Homo sapiens: one gene and its partners. The protein of the gene in region 1 interacts with the protein of each later gene in a pairwise test. Each region holds a gene or a part of one and is shown in the gene's direction. Other genes may lie near its edges.

The links. Proteins that work in one complex are often made in the same cells at the same time.
Region 2: the proteins of TRA2B (region 1) and MYPOP interact in binary tests that used the Homo sapiens proteins (3 or more experiments, as listed by UniProt).
Region 3: the proteins of TRA2B (region 1) and PCDHB14 interact in binary tests that used the Homo sapiens proteins (3 or more experiments, as listed by UniProt).

Annotation. Positions count from the first base shown.
Region 1 is NC_000003.12:185,928,015-185,935,036, reverse strand, and holds part of TRA2B (transformer-2 protein homolog beta), read left to right. Parts: intron 1-3,276; exon of another isoform or gene 3,277-3,460; intron 3,461-7,022. UniProt on the Homo sapiens protein: Sequence-specific RNA-binding protein which participates in the control of pre-mRNA splicing. Can either activate or suppress exon inclusion. Acts additively with RBMX to promote exon 7 inclusion of the survival motor neuron SMN2.
Region 2 is NC_000019.10:45,899,614-45,906,642, reverse strand, and holds the start of MYPOP (myb-related transcription factor, partner of profilin), read left to right. Parts: upstream 1-4,029; 5' UTR 4,030-4,073; intron 4,074-4,817; 5' UTR 4,818-4,869; coding exon 4,870-5,368; intron 5,369-7,029. UniProt on the Homo sapiens protein: Transcriptional repressor; DNA-binding protein that specifically recognizes the core sequence 5'-YAAC[GT]G-3'. Dimerization with PFN1 reduces its DNA-binding capacity.
Region 3 is NC_000005.10:141,218,740-141,226,342, forward strand, and holds the start of PCDHB14 (protocadherin beta-14 precursor), read left to right. Parts: upstream 1-4,603; 5' UTR 4,604-4,766; coding exon 4,767-7,163; 3' UTR 7,164-7,603. UniProt on the Homo sapiens protein: Potential calcium-dependent cell-adhesion protein. May be involved in the establishment and maintenance of specific neuronal connections in the brain.

The DNA of each region.
Region 1 (7,022 bases):
TTGCACGCAGTGTAATGTTCTGAGCCTCTCAATATTGTAATGAGTTTCTACGAGTGAGTCTTTACTAAAGGAATCCAGAAACTAAGGAGACACTGATGTATGGACCAGATGTTAAAGAAAATGTTTTGACCCAGCAGATACTCTGATAGAATACTGGCTATTATTTTTGTAAAGCCGATGTGATTGCAACATAGGCACGTAATCTTTATCATTAGAGATGAATAGCAGCATCTGGACACCAACCCATCAAACTGCTTTTCAAATTCTGCAGTTTTTCTCATCTTCTGCTGAATCTTGGGATGTCTTTTTATATTCCTTGGTTTTAGCTCCTAAACTCTAAATTCTAATTTTCAAAACTGAAACATCTCTGAATCTACTTCTTTCTAAAGAATTGCAGCCATCTCACCAAATTTCCTTTAAAAAAGGATTGAATTGTCAAATAGGAGGAAATTGTTTTGTATTGTGAGTCTGGTTAGGTTTATCAGTCTCTTGAAACCCGGTTGAAATATTTTTTTCTTGGTTTTAAACAAGAATGCTTTAATATTGTGGATATTGTCTGGAACTAGAACGTGACATTTTCAAGCTGACATTACAGGTGATTTTATAAGGTAAGTACTACTGGTTTTGCCAAAAGGTTGAAAAGGAATTCAGGTGGTGGGGGAAGTGTTAATGGGATTTGCCTTACATAGCGTTTTTTCCTCCTTTCTCTACAATAAAATCCGAACGTAGGTGGTAAATATTAATGCTTTCATAGCTATTTTGCCCAGGACAAGGGCAGAGCTACAGCTGTGTATATTTCTTGAGCCTTAGCATTTTATGTTGATCAGTGTTTTTACATATGCGACTGTTTTTTTAACAAGGCATGGTGACTGATGTTTAGGAATTTTAAGTGTTTTGACCCAGGTTAGTATTGGGGGTGTGGGCTATGTAGAATTAGATATTGAAATCACTTAGTCTTGTTTTTAAACTGCAAACCAAAAGAAGTTCTTCACTGTAGCAAATTACAGTCTTGAAATTCCCCCAAAATCTTTGCTTTGAATTGGGTTTTGGAGGTTACATTGAGATTGATGTTATCAACATAGATTGTTACCTGACAGTTTGGATAAGGGGCCCCTTTTTCTCTAATTTTTGTGGTTAGAAATTAGGTTAAAAGGTAGTCTTCTGAAAAGTCAAAAGATATTTATATTTGCTTTTGTTGGGGAGTACTGACTGTTTTATGAATGTAAATTTAACAGTCTGTGCTATATTTACAAGAGAGTTTTTATAAGCACAGGCCTACAACTAATTTCAGATGATGTTTTTTTCCAGACACTATTCTCCAGTTTTTGAGGATTTACTTATCCATTTACTCTTCTGGTAGACAGTTTGGCTGCCAGAAAAAAATATAGTCCTTATTATATTGATATGAGCATTGACCTTTCCATAACAGGATTAATGAGGTTTTCTTTGCCCCTGTCCCTCCCAATTTTTAAAATATTGCCTTGTCAGTCAACTTAATGAGTTTGTGCATGTTTAATGTTAAATGGATTCTAGTTGTATCCCCTAGAAACATTTTAACAAAAATTGTGTTGATAGGACAAGTTTCTGTTTATTTCTAACTAGGGTCTCTTAACTAAATGTACATAACATTAGCCCAAGAGTTGATCTTCTGGTTTTATAAAGTAGCCACTTGAACTTAGCTGAGTTGAATTAAATCTAATATTTATAATAATTTAGTAATGGTTTTGTTCTTAGACTATAAGAGAAGGAACCAGGTTAGGAAGGGGTAATGAAGTAACAGCAGGAAGGTATCCACATTGAAAACAGTTGTGATAGCTAGAGCTATGGCCTCTATTCTTGTATCTTCTGCATCTAAGTGCCCTGTCTGTATCGAAGTTTTAGGAGGCCCTAAGGAAACCTGCTTGGGCATTCTGATTCCATGATTACATTTGTGCTGCCAGAAAACATTTCCCATTGCATTTTAGTGATGGAGATTTAAAGAAAGCCAATTACTGTAACTCCCTTAAATAAAAACATATTTAAAAATTTTCGGATTAAATAAACAATAATTGACTCTAAAACTAGACTGGAAATTATCCTTTTGTTAGGAAAGACATCACAGCACTTGCCAGATTAACGATGGTTGTCTTTATGCCCAGATAGGTATAAAGACTTGCAATTTTTTTAAACAAAGCCTTACATTTTTTTCAGGAGGAAAAACCAGGAGAGGAAGTAATTGACAATAAAATGAAAGATCATCAAAGTGAAATGTAGGATAACAAGAAAAACTAGCATGTTTTATGTAGGCAGTATTTTATTTTGTTTAGTATGTTCAACAGACATTTACAGATCAACTAAATTCAATCTTTTTAATTATTTGAGGAGGTGAGCTGTAATTTAAATAGTGCCACCTTTTAAAGTAGTATTTCTCCTTTGGACATCCAGAAGACTTAATATTTTCTAAATTGAGGGGGAAAATGTACAACAAAACTCTTTGAAAATACCAGTGTTGGATTCAAGTTTGTTCTGCTTTCCTTCATAGCTACTGGCATATTGTAGGTGGTTGACTTGATTTTGTCTTTTTATGATTCATACTATAAAATCTCACTAGAGCAGCTTTTCCAGGGGGTGGGTTACACTTAAGCTCCAAATTGTCAGGTTCCCTGACACCGTCTTTCTGCAGAGCTCTTTAAATACAGTACAAAAATGTGTGACGCTAAATACGTTTCTTTATCCTATCTAGACAAGTCACAATACTGTAAACCTCTTCAACCCTGAGCGTTTGTCATTGTACAAATGAATTGTCCGTGCTTTCCTTTCATGCACTTATGTATTAATGTGTCACTTTTTGACTAGAGGTGTGCTTTTGACACTTAACCTATTTTCTATTGAATATAATAAGAAGTGTGAAATGTAACTAATAGTTCTTAAAATGTTAAATGAACAGTAAATGTTCAGTGGCGCACTTCACATTCAACTTAAGCATGATAAGTCTATTTGGAGTAGAGAAATGAGATTACCATATATTCTAGAACCAGCAGAAAACTATGTAGTTTTCAGTTTTTTGAGCTGCATATTCTAGTTTCTTTTTTTTTTTTTTTAATCCAAATCAACAAAGGGATTTTTTTTTTCTAGTTTCAGTTTTGGCACTGGATTTTATCCTGGAGTTTTAAAATATTCTTCATCCTGTTCTTTTTCTATTAAGGTTAATGTTGAAGAAGGAAAATGCGGAAGTCGTCATTTGACAAGTTTTATAAATGAGTATTTGAAGCTCAGGAATAAGTGAAGCTGAAATTTGAAAAAATAAAAGAAAGAATGCATGCTAATTATCAGACCAGAAGTCCCACTTGTAGAATATTGAGCAATTTGTGTGAAGTGGGGAAGATGAAAGAAGTCAGAATTTGAAACGGAAGAATGAAGAAAAGAAATAAAAATGAAGTTAAGATAAGAAGTAATCTGGAATCAGAAAGCACTACGCTAAGTAATTACTAGTCTGTTTATGTGTCCCTGTATATTTTGCTAAACATGCATGCATTATTTGTTTAATAGAGGAAAATATATACAGGGTAAAGAAGTGCCTTCCAGGGGAAACGTTTAAATTAGGTAATTCTGATTTTAACTGCTTAGTTAAATGATTGAAATGCAATTTTTAAAAAATATTTAGTAGTCAAGCACCAGGCAGCAGTGAGCTCTCCAGCATGGGTAACAGTGGGCTTCATGTTGTCCTCTCTAGATAAACTTTACCTGTCTAATGTTGCTGGTCCTGGGGCATGAGCGAATACCTCCAGGGTTGGAACTGGTGGTCTTTGCCACCTCCCTGGACTCTTAGATTGCACTGTCCCCTTTCCTTCAGTACTGAGCAATGTATAGTAGAATATTTTCTGTTAAACCATTTTCAAAGGAATGTCACCAGGATGGTTATGGAACCAAACCCCCAAAATCCAAACAAAGCATTGAACAAAATAGTTCCCTTTGGCATTAGTGTGTTAGTTTTTTCCATATGGCACTAGTGGAAATCTGTGAGCATTTGGGCCCTAAATTTAAGATGCATATTTGCTAAATACACAGGGATGGTTTTTCAAATTCTGTTTCTGTTTAATGCCTATTTCAGCTGATTGACTAGGATTACTGATAAAATACCGTAGCTTCCCCTTAGAAGAGGTGGGTCACACAAGTGAACAGGATAGCTAATACAAATTGCAGTAATGGCAGATGCTTTCATTCCTATTTCTCCTTTTTTGCTATCAACATTTAGCTATTGTAATGTTAGAGGTAACGGTTACAAAGTAGCTTTATTCTGGTTACCTGGTATCCCTTGCACTTATTGAGAAATTCAACCCAAAAGCTGTCCCTTCTTTTCTGTGTGTTTTGTTTTAGCTGAGTAGAAGGGTCAAGTGATTGGTGTAATGTTACTTTCAGTTGAATGAGACAAGTACACATATCAAAAATAATACCCAGTAGTAGTCAGCCAGCGGTTTTCTACCCAGTTGAGAATGCCAAGGGTATCATGTCACACATGTCTTCCTGAAATAAACTTTCTCTGAGAGTTGTCAGGTCTTCATGCTCTTGGAGAAAGTGACTTAAATGGCATTTCTTGGAGAATCCATTTTCTGATGCTTTCAGGCCTGTTTATTTCTATATCTTGCAAGCAGAAGAAAATTTTCTCTTAAGAAGTTTTGCATTCCTTTGTCAAATTTCTTGCCATAGATAAACTAATGATGATAAATGTTATTTTATGTTCCAAATTACTCAAAGAGCAGGCAGGAAACTGAGGTAAATGTGTGAATGAATATTACATTTTAATTCCAAGCCCATGGATTCTTTTATCAAGAAACCTGACAGGTCCTTGGGGTGCAAAAGAGGAAAAGACCTCTTAACCCCCAGCCCACTAAAGGAAAGAAAGCAATTTGGAATCTGGTTATGACCCAAGCTGGATAGACTTAAGGTGAGAAAACGTTGCTAGTGGACCATTGTGTCCATTTGTTTTTGTTTTCCCCCTTGACCAAAGCATCTGTGGGTCCTAATGTGTCTCCTCCTCGGGCCATAGGGAAGATGAGGAGGAGGCCGGCTTCTGTTCCTGAGAACAGGCAGTGTGTGAAAGACTGCCTTAATCAGAGGTCTGATTAATGCTAAGGGGAGTCAAAACAAGGAAGGGGATGACAGTGTTTCAGGAAGATAACCTTTGCCAAGGGAAAAAAATGAGTAGGAAGCATGTAACTTCTGAGGTTGACTAAGTCAAGTAAGTCAGACTTAACTAGTATGATAAACAGTGTTTTAAGAGATGCAGTGTTTATGAGCCACTATTTTAAATCTAACAAACCACATTCAGTTTTTAAAATAATACAGGGATTGGATGGTTAGTCCTTTCAAATATGTTTTTGTAAGGTGGTTGCTGTTCTCAGAATAGGGAGATGTGGATTATTTTGTTGGAAGGCTAAGTGTGTTGTATTTTTACTTGATGTATTCCCTTTAGGTTTTGTATTAGGATGTGGCTGAGATCCAGTCTGTGAGAGCTTGATTGATTTCCTGAGCATTTTTTCAGGGAAATTTTGGTTTTATTCATGCTAATTTTAGTTTCATGGTCCCTTTTTTTGAGGCAGTGGTGTCCAGTTCTGTCTGTTGGTGTGGTTTTAATGTGTTGACCATGTCAGCCCTGAGAGTGGAATTTGAAGTATGCTTAGATTTAGGGACTTCCCCAACTGGTTTTTATAGCTTTACCTGTCTGCATTGAGATTTAAAGTTAATTATGCTTTTGATTTGGGTGCTAATTTTAGGTCTTATTTCTTGTAGGCAAGTTTTATTCCCTTGCCATATGTATTTCCCAGCCAGTTAAATGGCCAAAATAACTTCAGAAAGCTTTAACTTCTTTAAGAAAATATCCCTGATAAAGGATCGAGACGTTTAGGTGTTACCCAAACAAGTGTCAGTATAGAAAAGGAAGCCTTTGCATTCTGGTATTTCCCTTATTCCTGGCCCAAGAAATGATTGCTTACAAAATATATCTGCATAGTCCGTTAGTTTTGGAGGCTGAGTGAAAACTCCTGTGATTTCAGAAATATTGTATCTGTGATCTGCTAGATTTTAAGGAGAAAACTTCATTAAGTCTTATTTTCTAGGTTAGGAGTACTGTCTCTTCCCTCAGTGGACAGGCTGCCGAAGCATCTTAGCTTAGAATAAAGGTTTTTCTGTTAAAGCCAGGAGCTTAAAGAGGATCTTGACTTGACCCATTCTTCCTTTATACTCAGATTCCTGGGCTGACTGATTTCTGTTAACTACAGTTACTTTATTGGTAGTCTTAACTGTTACTGTGAAACACCCATATTCTGCTTTCACTTCTGGAGAAAATTGTTTCATTTCCATAGAGGTAATCTTTCTAGTGTTGGAGTAAACAGGCTTTTAGCAACTTTTGGGTTCCCCATTTCTATATTCTCACCTATGTTAATTTTTGCCTGTGGTAAAAATAGCAAAAACTACACCCTCATTTTTGAGACTTCCTCCTTTGTCCATGGAGAGAAGGGAAGTGTCCGTTCAGAATACTTGATAGGGAATTCCAAGGGATTGTTGTTAATTGGAAGCCCCAGAGCATCACTACATCCTTTAACCATTTCTTGATGTTAAAGGCAGCTGTTCATATATTTTTCTTTTAATCTTTTTACAGTCAGTCATGGAGGGAGGTAGAGGGGAAAGGCTGTCACATTTCATGTCACCCCACCATGTTTTATAATGGCTTTGAAGTCATTTGAACGTTTCTAGAGTCGTCTGGGGCCTAGAGACCTGAACTCATTTTACTGGATGAGTTAGCCTTTCCTTCTGTGTTAAACCTCAAACCTTAATTTGTCTATTCTGTGTTACATTATAAATGTTTTCCCTGAGCATCAAAGGATCATCCAAATTTTCTCCATTATGTTGTAAACCACAAAACTATCTTCTAAAGTGTTTTGAGCTGTAATTTAGAATAATCCTCTACTGTCCTTTCAAGAATGTCCAGAATACTCTGAAGATGTATCACACAAGGAAATCTCTTGTGATTTTATCTGAAAGCT
Region 2 (7,029 bases), on another chromosome or scaffold:
ATTCACAGTTTTGGCTGGACTCAGTGGCTCACGCCTGTAATCCCAACACTCTTGGAGGCTGAGGCCTCACAGAGGATTGCTCAAGCCCAGGAATTTGGGACCAGCCTAGGCAACACAGTGGGATCTTGTCTCTACAAAAAATTTTAAAACTTAGCCGGGCATGATGGTGTGTGCCTGTAGTTCCAGCTACTCTAGAGGCTGAGGTGGGAGGGTGAGCCTGGAAGTTTGAGTCATGATTGCATGATTGTACCACTGCACTCCAGTCTGGGTCATAGAGCAAGTCTCTGTCTCAAAAAAAAAAAAAAAAAAGGACTCACAACTCACAGTTTTGAAAATGTGGCCCTTCGCCAGGCACAGTGGCTCATGCCTATAATCCTAGCACTTTGGGAGGACAAGGCAGGTGGATCATCTGAGGTCAGGTGTTTGAGACCAGCCTGGCCAACACGGGTGAAATCCCATCTCTACTAAAAAAAAAACAAAAATTAGCCAAGTGTGGTGGCGTGCCCCTGTAGTCCCAGGTACTCAGGAGGCTGAGACAGGAGAATCGCTTGAACCAGGGAGGCAGAGGTTGCTGTGAGCCGAGATCGCACCATTGCTCTCCAGCCTGGGCGACAAGAGCAAAACTCCATCAAGAAAAGAAAAGAGGCAAGACAAGAAAGAAAATGTGGCCCTAGAAAGCCTTCCCTGACCCACCCTCACCCCAGGAGTCTTGCCCTCTGACTTCCTGCATCCAGCTTCCAGCTACCCACATCTGTGGAGCTCCATACCCCACTGCTGTGGCTCTCCACCTCCCACCGCCTCGTGAACCCAGAGCCAGGTTTAGACTCAACTCTCTGCCTGGACTGCCATGGAGGCAGCAGCTCCCTGAATGCAGCTCCCCGAATGCCTTCCCGGGGTCCCCAGTGCATTTGTTTCCTGTGGCTGCCATGACAAGGTACCGCAAACTGGGTGGTTTAAAACGAGAAACGTGGCTAGGCACGGTGGCTCACACCTGTAATCCTAGCACTTTGGGAGGCCGAGACAGGCGGATCACCTGAGGTAAGGAGTTCAAGACCAGCCTGGCCAACACTGTGAAACCCCGTCTCTACTAAAAATACAAAAATTAGCTGGGCATGGTGGCATGCGCCTGTAATCCCAGTTACCCGGGAGACTGAGGCAGGAGAATCACTGGAATCCGGGAGGCAGAGGCTGCAGCGAGCCGAGATCGTGCCACTGTACTCCAGCCTGGGCAACAGAGCAAGACTCCATTTCAAAAAAAAAAAAAAAACAGAGAGAGAGAAACGTATTGTCTCCCAGATTCACCAGGCTGAAAATCCGAAATCAAGGCATGGGCGTGGCCTCACTCCGGACAAGGCTCCAGCGGGTGATCTTTCCTGGCTTCTTCCAGCTTCTGATAGCACAGGGCCTTCCTGGGCTTGTGGCTGCGTCACCCCCGTCTCCACTTCTGTCACCATAGAATTGTCTTCCCTGTGTGTCTCCTCTTCTTATAAAGACACCGGGAATGAGGAATGACGGGTCCACCCTACACTGGTATGGCTACCTCTCAACGAATTCCCTCTCCAAGGACCCTATTTCCAAATAAGGTCACATTCTGAAGCACTGGGGGATCAGGACTTCAGCCTCTCTTTTTGGGGGAAACAGTTCAACCTGTTGGTCACTTTACACTCACGTATCTTTTTTTGATTGTGTTTTTTTTGTTGTTGTTCTTATTTTTTTAATTTAATTTTTTTTTGAGGCAGAGTCTCACGCTGTCCCCCAGGCTGGAATGCAGTGGCGCAGTCTCAGCTCACTGCAAGCTCAGCCTCCCGGGTTCATGCCATTCTCCTGCCTCAGCCTCCCGAGTAGCTGGGACTTCAGGCGCCTGCCACCACTCCCGGCTAATTTTTTGTATTTTTAGTAGAGACGGGGTTTCACCATGTTAGTCAGGATGGTCTCAATCTCCTGACCTCGTGATCCACCTGCCTCGGCCTCCCAAAGTGCTGGGATTACAGGAATGAGCCACTGCGCCCGGCCTTTTTTTTAATTTTTTTGAGACAGAGTCTCACTCTGTCGCCCAGGCTGGAGTGCAGTGGTGAGATCTCGGTTCCCTGCAATCTGTGCCTCCTAGGCTCAAGAGATTCTCCTGCCTCAGCCTCCCGAGTAGCTAGGATTACAGGCACATGGCACAACACCCAGCTATTTTTTTTTTTTTTGAATTTTTAATAGAGACAGGGTTCCACCATGTTGGCCAGGCTGGTCTCGAACTCCTGACCTCAGATGATCCACCTGTCTCAGCCTCCCAAAGTGTTGGGATTACAGGCGTGAGCCACTGCACCCAGCCTTACATTCACCACATCTTACCTGACCCCACACCCCCAAGTGAGAACCTGGGCCAGAGACTTGGGTTTCACCTAGACATCTTCCTTTCCCTCGCTAGCGCGACACTCACCATGCTTTCCATATATTCTCTCAAATGTCTCTCCGTGTCCCCCTTGACACTGTCCCTGTCTTAGTTTAGTCTCCCCTCGCTTTCCTAATCCTTTTCTTACCCCTGCTCATGACTTTTTTTGACTCTACCCAGTAGTCTTGCTCCCTCCCACCCACCCTCCACACAGCAGGCAGAGGGGCCTTTTTTTTCTCTCTCTCTTCTTTTGAGACAGGGTCTTACTCTGTTGCCCAAGCTGGAGAGCAGTGGCCTGATCATAGCTCACTGCAGCCTGCAACTCCTGGGCTCAAGCGATCCTCCCGCCTCAGCCTCCCAAGTAGCTGGGACTACAGGCATGTATTTTTTTTTTTTTTTTTTTTGAGACGGAGTCTCACTCTGTCGTCCAGGTGGAGTGCAGTGGTGCAATCTCAGCTCACTGCAACCTCTGCCTCCCGGGGTTAAGCGATTCTCGTGCCTCAGCCTCCCGAGTAGCTGGGATTACAGGCATGCACCACCATGCCCAGCTAGTTTTTGTATTTTCAGTAGAGATGGGGTTTCACTGTGTTGGCCAGGCTTGTCTCGAACCCCTGACCTCAGGTAATCCGCCCGCCTTGGCTTCCCAAAGTGCTGGGATTACAGGCGTGAGCTCCACCGCGCCCGGCCCAGGCTACGGATTTTAGCTTTTATGTTCATTGTACCAGGAACTGTGTAAGTGCTCATGTATATTTATTGAGTCGATGAATGAAGCACCAATTGTCGAATGACCTTGAGGACTCCTGCAGGATGCTAACGAACACACTTCTCAGCCGGACTGAGCTCCATCATCCTGCCATGCGGCTCACCCCACCTGCGTTCTGGCTTCATTCCTGTCTCCATGCACTTGCTTAAAGTCGTGCCGGCGTCAGGATCTCCCTTCCTACCAGCCAGGAAGCTCTTCCCTCTTATTTTCCCCGCTCCTCGAGGTAAAGGTGCGCACAGAGGGGCCCCCAAGGCGTGACTGGAAGGCTTGTGGGTCGCTATGGTTACTGCATCCGCCCGGGGCGGGACATCCCCAGGACGCCCAGCCTCTAGGGGTGCGAGGTGGGAAGCTCTGGAGCGGCCCAGCGCAGGGGCGGGCAAGCCAGGAGGCAAAGCGGTTTCCTCACGCCTCCACCCCACCCACACAGTTGTCAAGGAGACAAAGCGCTTCCCTTCAGCGCTGTCTCCCTCCCCTTTGGTTAGAGGGCAGGGTGGGCTGGAAGACTGTCCGAAAGGTTGGGTACTGGCGCGCTCCCAGCATCTCTCCCATCCAAGCTCGCAACGCCTGCGCCGAGACCCGGTACCGGGTACAACCCGAGGCACGCGCATGCGCGCGATGGAGTTTTTGCGCGTGCGCCGTTGTGGCCCCAGGAAGCTGGGGTACCCGCGCGGCGCTAACGTTGCGGCTGCGCAGTTGCGGCCTGCTGGTGGGGCTCGGCGGAGCGCAGTTCTGCGCCTGCGCTGTGCTGGGGTAGGTGGGAATGAAACCCTGGCGGTAAGGGCATTGGGGCCGACTGGCCCTGGGCGCGCCTGCGCCTTGGCATGCGGGGCGGCCGGAGGCGGGGCCGAAAGAGGGGAGGGAGGGAGGCGGGGGGTGGGAACAGGCCGCAGAAGCCCGAGCCCTGACCCACCGGCGGCTGCGGCGGAGCCGGTGAGTGACCCGTGGCCCGACTCGGTCCCCACCCTCCGCGACCTTCGCTCTCCCTGCCGTCCCCCGTAGCCTCCGTTGTCTCCTTGTGATACGGGACCCCCGTTATTTCCAGAGCTCCCCTTAATTTCTGGCAATCCCCAGAGCCCCCACAATCCTCGCAGACCCTGATCCCTAATATTTGATCGTTCCAGCTCTTCCAGTGATACAGGAGCTCCCACCTCACCATTATTCCTGGACATCCCTCTAAGGGCCCTTCTCATATCGGTCTTACAGACGCCCCGTTGCCCCCTAGAGCCCCTAGAGCGCCTCCTCTGCTCCAGATTCCCCCCTTCTTGCTGCATCCCCCCTTCCGCATCTCCTTATCTTCATGCATCTAAGACCCCCCCGAGGCACCCCCATCCTCCCTCCATTTCCTATCCTCCCGTGCCCCCATTCTCTAACTCCTGCAGACACCTCCTCTCCTCGCACTTTTCCTCCTTTCCTTCCATCCCTCCAGACCCTCCCCCAATTTCTATCAACTCTTCAGCGTGGCACTTCGCGCCGCGCGAAGTCCGAGCCAAGCGCTCAGCCGGTGTCAGCTACTCTTAGGCGCTTCCGACTTACCCGGGTGCCCGTCGCCCCCGCCCGCCCCCCGCCCCCACTCCTGCCCCCGGGGACTAAGGAGCTCTCGGCCCGGCGGTCTGGGAGAGGCGGCGGCGGGGGGACCCCGAACCCCAGCCAGCCCCGTGCGCCCTTTGCCCGCAGCGCCGGCGCCCCCCATGCGCCAGACGGCAGGACGGCGGCGTCGGGGGGCGCCATGGCCTCGGCGGCGGCGGGCGAAGCGGAGGAAACCACCCGGTTGCGCAAGCCGCGCTTCTCATTCGAAGAGAACCAGATCCTGATCCGCGAGGTGCGCGCCCACTACCCGCAGCTCTACGGCGCGCAGAGCCGTCGGGTGAGCGTGGCAGAGCGGCGGCGCGTGTGGGACGGCATCGCCGCCAAGATCAACGGTATCACCAGCTGGAAGCGCACGGGCCAGGAGGTGCAGAAGCGCTGGAACGACTTCAAGCGCCGCACCAAGGAGAAGCTCGCTCGCGTGCCGCACTCCACGCAGGGCGCCGGGCCCGCCGCGGAGGACGCTTTCTCCGCGGAAGAGGAGACCATTTTTGCCATCCTGGGGCCAGGTGTGGCGGCGCCGGGGGCAGGTGCTGGGGCGGAGGAGCCCCCTGCGGCCCCCTCTTCACAGCCGCCGCCCCCAAGCGCCTGCCCTCAGCGCTACGTGTTGTCGGAAGACCGCCGGGAGGACCGACGTGCAGGTGAGTGTCTTCAGAGTAGGCTGTGTGCCTGCGCTGTTGCAAGCCTTTTACATGTCTCATCAAAGCCTTGCTGCAGCCCTGTGAGGTGGATGCTGTCCTTCGCCCCATTTTATAGCTAGGGAAACTGAAGCTCAGAAAAATGAAATGACTTGCCTCAGTTCCGATAGCTAGTAACTGTCAAGAGCCAGGAATGGAACCAGATTTAGGAGGCCTGACTCAGGTCCACACCTGGGGTCATCAGCACAGGCAGGATTTCATTAAATGCAGTGTCGAGTAGTGACTCTGGAGGCAGGCTGCCTGGGCTCCGATCACAACTTTGCCACTGAACTGTGTCATCTGAGTAAGTTACTGTACTTCAGTTGCTGCATCTGTAAAATGGAGATAAAAATAGTCTGCACCTCAAAGCGTTGCTGTGAAGATTAAATGAGCTAATATGGGTAAGTTGCTTAGTTCAGCACCTCCTCAACTCTCATTGTTAGTTCTTGATAGAATCATCAATGCGGTAAGATGCATACTATTTCACTATTTCATAAATAAAAGACTCAGACATGTTTGGTAATTTTCCCAAGGTCATGCCTTGGATAGAGGTGTGGAGAGCTGACTACAGAAACTTCCTGCTTAGCCTTGATTCTGGATTATTTCTTCTACAGCCGTTCCCTGAGCACCTGCCCCATGCTCGATGAGGTTGGGGACACATGGATGACTGAGCCAGTCTAGTAGGGGGGTGGGGAAGACGGTGATGACTTGAGGGAGCAGGGCTGGGGTAGGGGATCCCAGGGACTGTGGGAGCCCAGAGAGGGTTTCTGATTTCGGTGGGGGGGGGGGTGGTCCAGGAGGGCTTCCTGGAGGAGGGGACATCAGAGCTGAGATGCAAAGAGTAAGAATGAAGAACTGGGAAAGTATTTTTGGTAGAGGGAACAGCATGTACAATGGCTTGGAGGCAAGAAAGCTTGGCCAGTTTGGGAAACTAAAAGAAGTTGCGGGGAAAAGAGTGTAGAGTGGAAAGGTTGAAGAAAAGTAACATTTTGAGATGAGTTCAGAGAGGTCAGCAAAGGCCAGACCATACTGGGCCTTTAGGCCAAGGTGAGGAGTTTGGATTTTATCCTGACTGCTATGAGAAGCCACTGAAGAGTTTGGAGAAGGGGAGGAACATGGGCATGATCAAACAAGACAGTTCAAGATTATGTGATTCAGAGAGGTTCATTCACCCACCCAAGGTCACACAGCAAGTAAGTGACAGAGTCAGGACTCAAGCATAAGTGTGCGTCCAACCCCCAGTCCATGGCACTTAACCACTGAGCAAGATTGCCCAGCAATAACAAGAGTTAATATTGACCAGGAGTTAATGAGTGTGCCAGAATTAGATTACACGTGGCTTGGAAGTCAAGGTCAGGAATTTGGACTTACTATTTTTTTTGTTTTGTTTTTTGTTTTGAGACGGAGTCTTGCTCTGTTGCCCAGGCTGGAGTGCAGTGGCGAAATCTTGGCTTGCTGCAACCTCCGCCTCCCCAGGTTCAAGTGATTCTCCTGCCTCAGCCTCCTGAGTAGCTGGGATTACAGGTGCCTGCCACCATGCCCAGGTAATTTTTGTATTTTTAGTAGAGATGGGATTTCACCATGTTGACCAGGCTGGTCTGGAACTCCCGACCTCAGGTGATCCA
Region 3 (7,603 bases), on another chromosome or scaffold:
CCTCAGTCTCCCGAGTAGCACCCCCAGCTATTTTAAAAAAAATTTTTGTAGAGATGGGTTCTCATCATGTCGCCCAGGCTGTTGAACTTCTGGCCTCCAAAGGTGGGAGTTATTCTAGCAGCTTCCCTGTGATCTTCTCATATCTACTGGTGGAGTGGGAAAGAGTAGTTCAAACAACTCAGACAGAAAATCTCGCTGGTGCAACAGTGGAGAGAAGGGCCAAGTACTTGTCCTGTTACTTCCAGTTTTTCTAGATATATGAGCAGCAGGACTCCTCTCTTTATAAAAAGAACTATGAGTTTCCTGGCTCTAATGAAGAGTGACCAGGCATTCAGGAGCTCAAATGCCCAGATACATATAACCAACCAATTCTCCTAGAATGCATTGCTAAAAACGAATTTTGCTTATATGCTTCAAAGACCTCATTTATAGTTATACTTAAAACAGTGCATAGGAATCAAGCTGTATCAGCCAATTTTATATGAAAGAACTATAGGTTGTAAGTAACTTAGAATATAATTTTTTATCTAGCGGGGGTTAAAGGACACTTAGAAAATAGAGACACAAGAGATGGCCCAGCCTTACAGAATGGATTCTCCTGAAAACGCTTACAATAAAAACCAAATAACAGTATTTTTTTTTTATTTAGGCAATAGTATGGGAGGGAAAAGGGACATAGGACATTTTATCTTACAAACACATTGTTCTCTTTATCTTTCTGTTTCAAGTTCTACCACCACTCCTGGGTCCACTGATTAATCTAACAACATGGCCTCTCAGTCCCTAAGTCTTTACCTCTACTCCTGTTTTTCAGTCATTAATGCCCTGGCTACATATTGTACTTTTTCCCCACCAAGAAACTGTTCTATGATATAATAATTTCAGCTATCTCCCTCTGAGTGCACAATTGTCTATGCCTATAACCTTCTCATTCTGCTGTTTCTATCACATCTTGTCTTTGACCTTATCAGAGCTCCATTCCATGGTGCTGTTACTACCTATCAAACGCTCCTGTTTTAATTTCCTTCCTATTCAGCTGATTTCCTGGTTTACCACTCCCAGTTGCTCTCATGCCCATATTCTCAATTCCCTTGTTCAATTTTCCTTCACTAAAACCACCTGATGAAACTCCAGCCCAGATGAATATAGTCCTCCTCCTCTCTTACACATGGGGTGCTGCACTCTATAAGACCAAACTTACAAAATTAGCAATACCACTGCCACTATAAATGTATAATATTCAAACCTAATTGGGCTTCTGAGACCAAGAACTCCTTTTATAATTTTTCTAACGAGCTTTCTCTTCTACGCTCCACAACAACTATTTTAAACCTACGTATCTTACTTTAAACTTCTTACCCTACCACTTAGATACCCCCTTTTATCCGATGAACTTGCCTGATACCTTATTGAGAAAATAGAATCCATCAGCTAGAAATTCATTTTCCTGTCCCCTACTCCACAGCTTTAACAGCATCTGTATCTATACTTTTCACCTGCTGAGGTCCGTCCCACTGGTCTAAATCCAAACACTTCATACATTGCCTGGATCCCATCTTTAACAACCTTTCTAGGGGACTTGCATTATCCCTTCTGTATCTTAATTTTCTCCTTCCCTACTGAACATTACACATTGGCATTTTAAATATATTCAAGTTTCTCTAGTCTTTAAAATACTCTCTGAGTCTGAATTCTTCTCCAGATACCAATGTATTTCTTATTCCTTTTACAGCCTTTTCATTCTTTACAAATTTCTTGAGAGCCTGGATGCAGTGAGCCAGTGAGCCTGGGTGACAGACTGAGACCCTGTCTCAAAAAAAAAATTGTTGAAAGAGCGGTTTACCTCATTTTTGCTTCCTCATCCGCCTCACTTTGCACCGAAGTACAATCTAATTTTCATCACAACCATTCTACTGAAACTGCTATTGCAAATGTTATCAAAGATTTCCATATAAGTTAAGATTATACTGTGGAACCAATGTGATGCAATGACACAGTGGCTTGTAAACATGTCTCTCTTTTTCACATGACAGTACCAATGTAAAAATTATTAGGTAGGTAGGGCAGCTTTCATCCTCACAGTCCTTCTGAAACCAAATTTTCTTTCAAGTAATTTCTTCAACATTCCCTATGGCAATATAATCTGCATGGCTGTAGCTGGGTCACTGTCACATCTGGGTTCTAGCTCGCTTGGAAGAAAGAGGCATATCCAGATGATTTCTGTTCTATAACTGGAAGGGGAAGACAGAAATTCTGCTCACAATCCATCTGTGAGAACTTAATTCACTTGGCCACACTCAAATACAAGGGAGGCTGGGATGGGCAATCTACCTTCATGGCCACATACCTGGGCACAGTTCTATTACTATAGAAGCAAAGGAAAACAGATTTTGTCAGACATCTATCAGAATCCTCCACAATGACCATCTTTTTAAGCCCACTGGATAATTGTCATACTTATTTTTCTTGATTTTTCTGAAGCATTTGCAGCCATTGATCTTCCTTATCTCCTTAAAATGCTATTTGCTTTTGATTTCATGATTTTGAACTCTGAGCCTTCTTTATCTTTTCAAATATACTTCTTGCCCTGTCTCCTCTAAATGAAGATGTTTCTCAGAGTTCTGTGCCAAGCCTCTTTTATACTTATTTGACACACTTTTGCTTGGTTATCCTAGAGCATTCATGGTGTGTATATATATATATATATATATATATATGGTGATTGAAACCATGAATGCTATATATATATATATGCTATATATATGCTCTCTGTATATATGCTATATATATGCTCTCTCTCTATATATATGCTATATATATGCTCTCTCTCTCTGTCTCTCTCTGTCTCTCTCTATATATATACATATATACACACCACAGTTCATATTGCCAGCTCAGATTTATTTCCTATGCTTTGGTTATATGCAAACACACACACACACACCCCACCACCACGCAAACACACATCCTACAGGCACTTACCTCAATATCAGCATGTTCAAAACTGAACACTTCATCTTTTTCCACCCCAATCATGTTTTTTTTTAGCATTCCCTGTCCTAGTGAATGACACCACTAGTCATCCAGATGCCCAGTCCAGAGGTGTGATATCATCTCTGAGTCTTTCCCATTTTTCTCCCCATGCAACCTATCAACCAACAGTTGAAAACATTTCATCTCCTCATACCTTTCTATTCATCCCTCTTCTCTCCATCCACACTGGCATTATCCTCATCCAGATCATCATCTCTTATCTGATCTCCTTGATTCTCCAGTCACTCCCCCTGAAATTAATTCTCCATACTGCAGCCAAACTGATTTTTTAAAATGCAGATGTAATCATGTTAATCAGATATTTAAAACCCATCTTTGTACTTGAATTACCTTTAGGATAAATTCAAGAATGCATGATATGACCTGTATAATGATTCATGTTCTCACCATGCTTTTAACCCTAATTTCATTGTTAGACCCTCCCCTTCCATAGTTTTTAAAGTCCAAGGCATACTTCATTTCTCTGTGTTCCTCAAAATGCCCATCTGAAATATTCCTCCTTCTCCTGGCTAGTTCCTTCAGATCACAATGTATTTTTCATTACCTCAGGAAAGCTTTCACTGATGTCCCAAGTCCGACTTTGATCTTAATTATTTTATTTTTGACAGACACTTAACCAGCACTTACAAACCACTTTGTAAATATTAATTCATTAGATGCCTACGATAATAATCATAGGAGACAAATATTATTACCCCATTTTACAGGTGAGGAAACAAAGGTATCTATAACTTGCCCAAGCTTATAGATAGTAAGTCACATAACCAGGATTCTAATATTGATAATTTGGTTCCAGATCCCATATTCCCAAGCACTAAGGTATGCAGCCTCCTAGGTACAAGAAGTCTTTTCTAGGTATTTCTATATTACTTTTTATAAATGCATACATTATGACATACTTCGTTTACTTGTCTGCCAATTTTTCTAGCTTGTGAGCTCTGTAAGAGCAAGAATTATCTCTAACTTATTTGTGCCATGTCCTTCTTTATATTTTTAAAATATAAAAGTGAAAAAAGTAATGATATTACCAACTATAGCTGACAACAAGTATTTACAAGAGTGAAGGAGATAATATATTTGTAATTACTCGAGAAATGACTTAAATAAAAAATTATTTCTTCAGTTCAGAATATTTTAACAGATCCTTTAGTGCCGAGCATTCAAAACAGTGATAATGCAGTGTATGGACTTTTCTGGATTCAAATTCAAACAAACCAACAGCAAAGGACATTTTGGAGAGAACTGGGGAAAACCAAATGCAGTATAAATTACACCAAGGAATTATTGCTCAAGTTGTTGATTGTGAACGTTTTATTACAATTATCTTTTAGAAGGCCTTACCTATTAAAAATACTTAGTGAAGTATTTAAAGGAAAAAAAATGATGTCTGGGATTTGTTTCGAATGTTCCGGATGTATTTATGAATTACTTTTTCAAAGAGGAAAACTTTTTTAATGAAAAAAAAAACATGGAGACACATGGTGGCGCTACAGGATAAGACGAAAACAGTACATAGGCTGGCACGGTGAGCTTCGCTATTCAGGAGAACAGAAAGCATCCAACCCACTGAAAAGACAGGCATTAAAGGAGCTTCGCCTACAGAGCTGCTGGAGGATACACTCTCCAGGGGGTTCCTGTTAAAAACCAGAGCTTCAGCTTCCAAAATTACGGCTGAGCTTCAGTTTTTCCACAAGAGATTGCCTAAAGGAACCATGGAGATCAGAGGGGCACTCGATCTGCGAAAAAGGCAAGTTCTAATATTCCTTGTTTTGCTGGGATTGTCTCGGGCAGGTACTGAATCTGCACACTATTCTGTGGCAGAGGAAACAGAAATTGGCTCTTTTGTGGCTAATCTAGCGAGGGACCTAGGGCTGGGGGTGGAGGAGCTGTCTTCACGTGAAGCCCGGGTAGTGTCTGATGATAATAAAAAGTATTTGCACCTTGATTTGCTGACTGGGAATTTGCTCCTAAATGAGAAACTAGACCGAGACGAGCTGTGTGGCTCCACCGAGCCCTGTGTGCTGCATTTTCAGGTGGTTTTGGAAAACCCTTTACAGTTTTTTCGGTTTGAGCTGTGTGTCAAAGACATAAATGATCACTCCCCTACATTTCTAGACAAGGAAATACTTATTAAAATATCAGAAGGTACCACTGTTGGAGCTACCTTTCTAATGGAGAGTGCTCAAGATTTGGATGTCGGAAGCAACAGTCTCCAAAACTACACAATTAGCCCCAATTCTCACTTCTACATTAAAATTCCCGACAGTAGTGACAGAAAGATATACCCAGAGCTGGTCCTAGATAGAGCTTTAGATTATGAACAGGAAGCTGAACTCAGATTAACACTCACAGCAGTGGATGGTGGATCCCCGCCCAAGTCTGGGACAACTTTGGTTCTCATCAAGGTGTTGGACATCAATGATAATGCCCCTGAGTTTCCTCAGAGTCTCTATGAGGTGCAAGTCCCCGAGGACAGACCCCTTGGCTCCTGGATTGCCACCATCTCAGCTAAGGATCTGGATGCAGGAAACTATGGAAAAATATCTTACACATTTTTCCATGCATCAGAAGATATTCGTAAAACATTTGAAATTAATCCAATATCTGGGGAAGTTAATTTGAGATCACCCCTGGATTTTGAAGTAATACAGTCCTACACTATAAATATTCAGGCAACAGATGGTGGGGGTCTTTCAGGAAAATGCACCCTTCTAGTTAAAGTTATGGATATAAACGACAACCCACCAGAAGTGACCATATCGTCGATTACAAAGAGAATTCCAGAGAATGCCTCAGAGACCCTAGTAGCTCTTTTTAGTATCCTAGACCAAGACTCTGGAGACAATGGGAGGATGATTTGCTCTATTCAAGATAACCTCCCTTTTTTCCTGAAACCGACCTTCAAGAACTTTTTCACTCTAGTTTCTGAAAAAGCACTGGACAGAGAGAGCCAAGCCGAGTACAACATCACGATCACCGTCACAGACTTGGGGACACCCAGGCTGAAAACCGAGTACAACATAACCGTGCTGCTCTCTGACGTCAATGACAACGCCCCCACCTTCACCCAAACCTCCTACACCCTGTTCGTCCGCGAGAACAACAGCCCCGCCCTGCACATCGGCAGCGTCAGCGCCACAGACAGAGACTCAGGCACCAACGCCCAGGTCAACTACTCGCTGCTGCCGCCCCAGGACCGGCACCTGCCCCTCGCCTCCTTGGTCTCCATCAACGCGGACAATGGCCACCTGTTTGCCCTCAGGTCGCTGGACTACGAGGCCCTACAGGAGTTCGAGTTTCGCGTGGGCGCCACAGACCGCGGGTCCCCGGCGTTGAGCAGCGAGGCGCTGGTGCGCGTGCTGGTGCTGGACGCCAACGACAACTCGCCCTTCGTGCTGTACCCGCTGCAGAACGGCTCCGCGCCCTGCACCGAGCTGGTGCCCCGGGCGGCCGAGCCGGGCTACCTGGTGACCAAGGTGGTGGCGGTGGACGGCGACTCGGGCCAGAACGCCTGGCTGTCGTACCAGCTGCTCAAGGCCACGGAGCCCGGGCTGTTCGGCGTGTGGGCGCACAATGGCGAGGTGCGCACCGCCAGGCTGCTGAGCGAGCGCGACGCGGCCAAGCACAGGCTGGTGGTGCTGGTCAAGGACAATGGCGAGCCTCCTCGCTCGGCCACCGCCACGCTGCACGTGCTCCTGGTGGACGGCTTCTCCCAGCCCTACCTGCCGCTCCCTGAGGCGGCCCCGGCCCAGGCCCAGGCCGACTCCCTCACCGTCTACCTGGTGGTGGCATTGGCCTCGGTGTCGTCGCTCTTCCTCTTCTCGGTGCTCCTGTTCGTGGCGGTGCGGCTGTGCAGGAGGAGCAGGGCGGCCTCGGTGGGTCGCTGCTCGGTGCCCGAGGGTCCCTTTCCAGGGCATCTGGTGGACGTGAGCGGCACCGGGACCCTGTCCCAGAGCTACCAATACGAGGTGTGTCTGACAGGAGGTTCCGGGACAAATGAGTTCAAATTTCTGAAGCCGATTATCCCCAATTTTCAAGTTCATGACACTGGTAGGAATATGGGGGAAATCGAGAACTTTCGAAATAGCTTTGGACTTAACATTCAATAAAACAATTTATTTTAAATGTCTAATTTTTGGTTATTCTTGGCAAGCTGATGGTACTTTTTGCATAATCTTTTGTGGATTCTTGGTTGTACTGTAGTTGCATGCATGATTATAGCTCTTGTTTTTCTCACAGTTTCTTTAAAAATCTTTATTAGTGGCTATAATGACGTGGAAATGTAATCTGTGTTTTCTGGTTTTTCATTTATTTGGCCAAAATGTTATATTAATGGAGTTATTGCTATTTTTGCTGTGATAATGGTATTATGCAAGACCATATTCTCAATTATTTGGATATGCAAACTAAAGTATTAAGAGCTAATGTCATTATATATGTAACTTAAATCTAGACACCATCAAAGCATAAAATAAAAATAAAAAGCGTTGCTGAATCTGGGTCGAAAATGTAGTGCGTTTATCCCACTATTCTCTCTGAAAATGTTCTT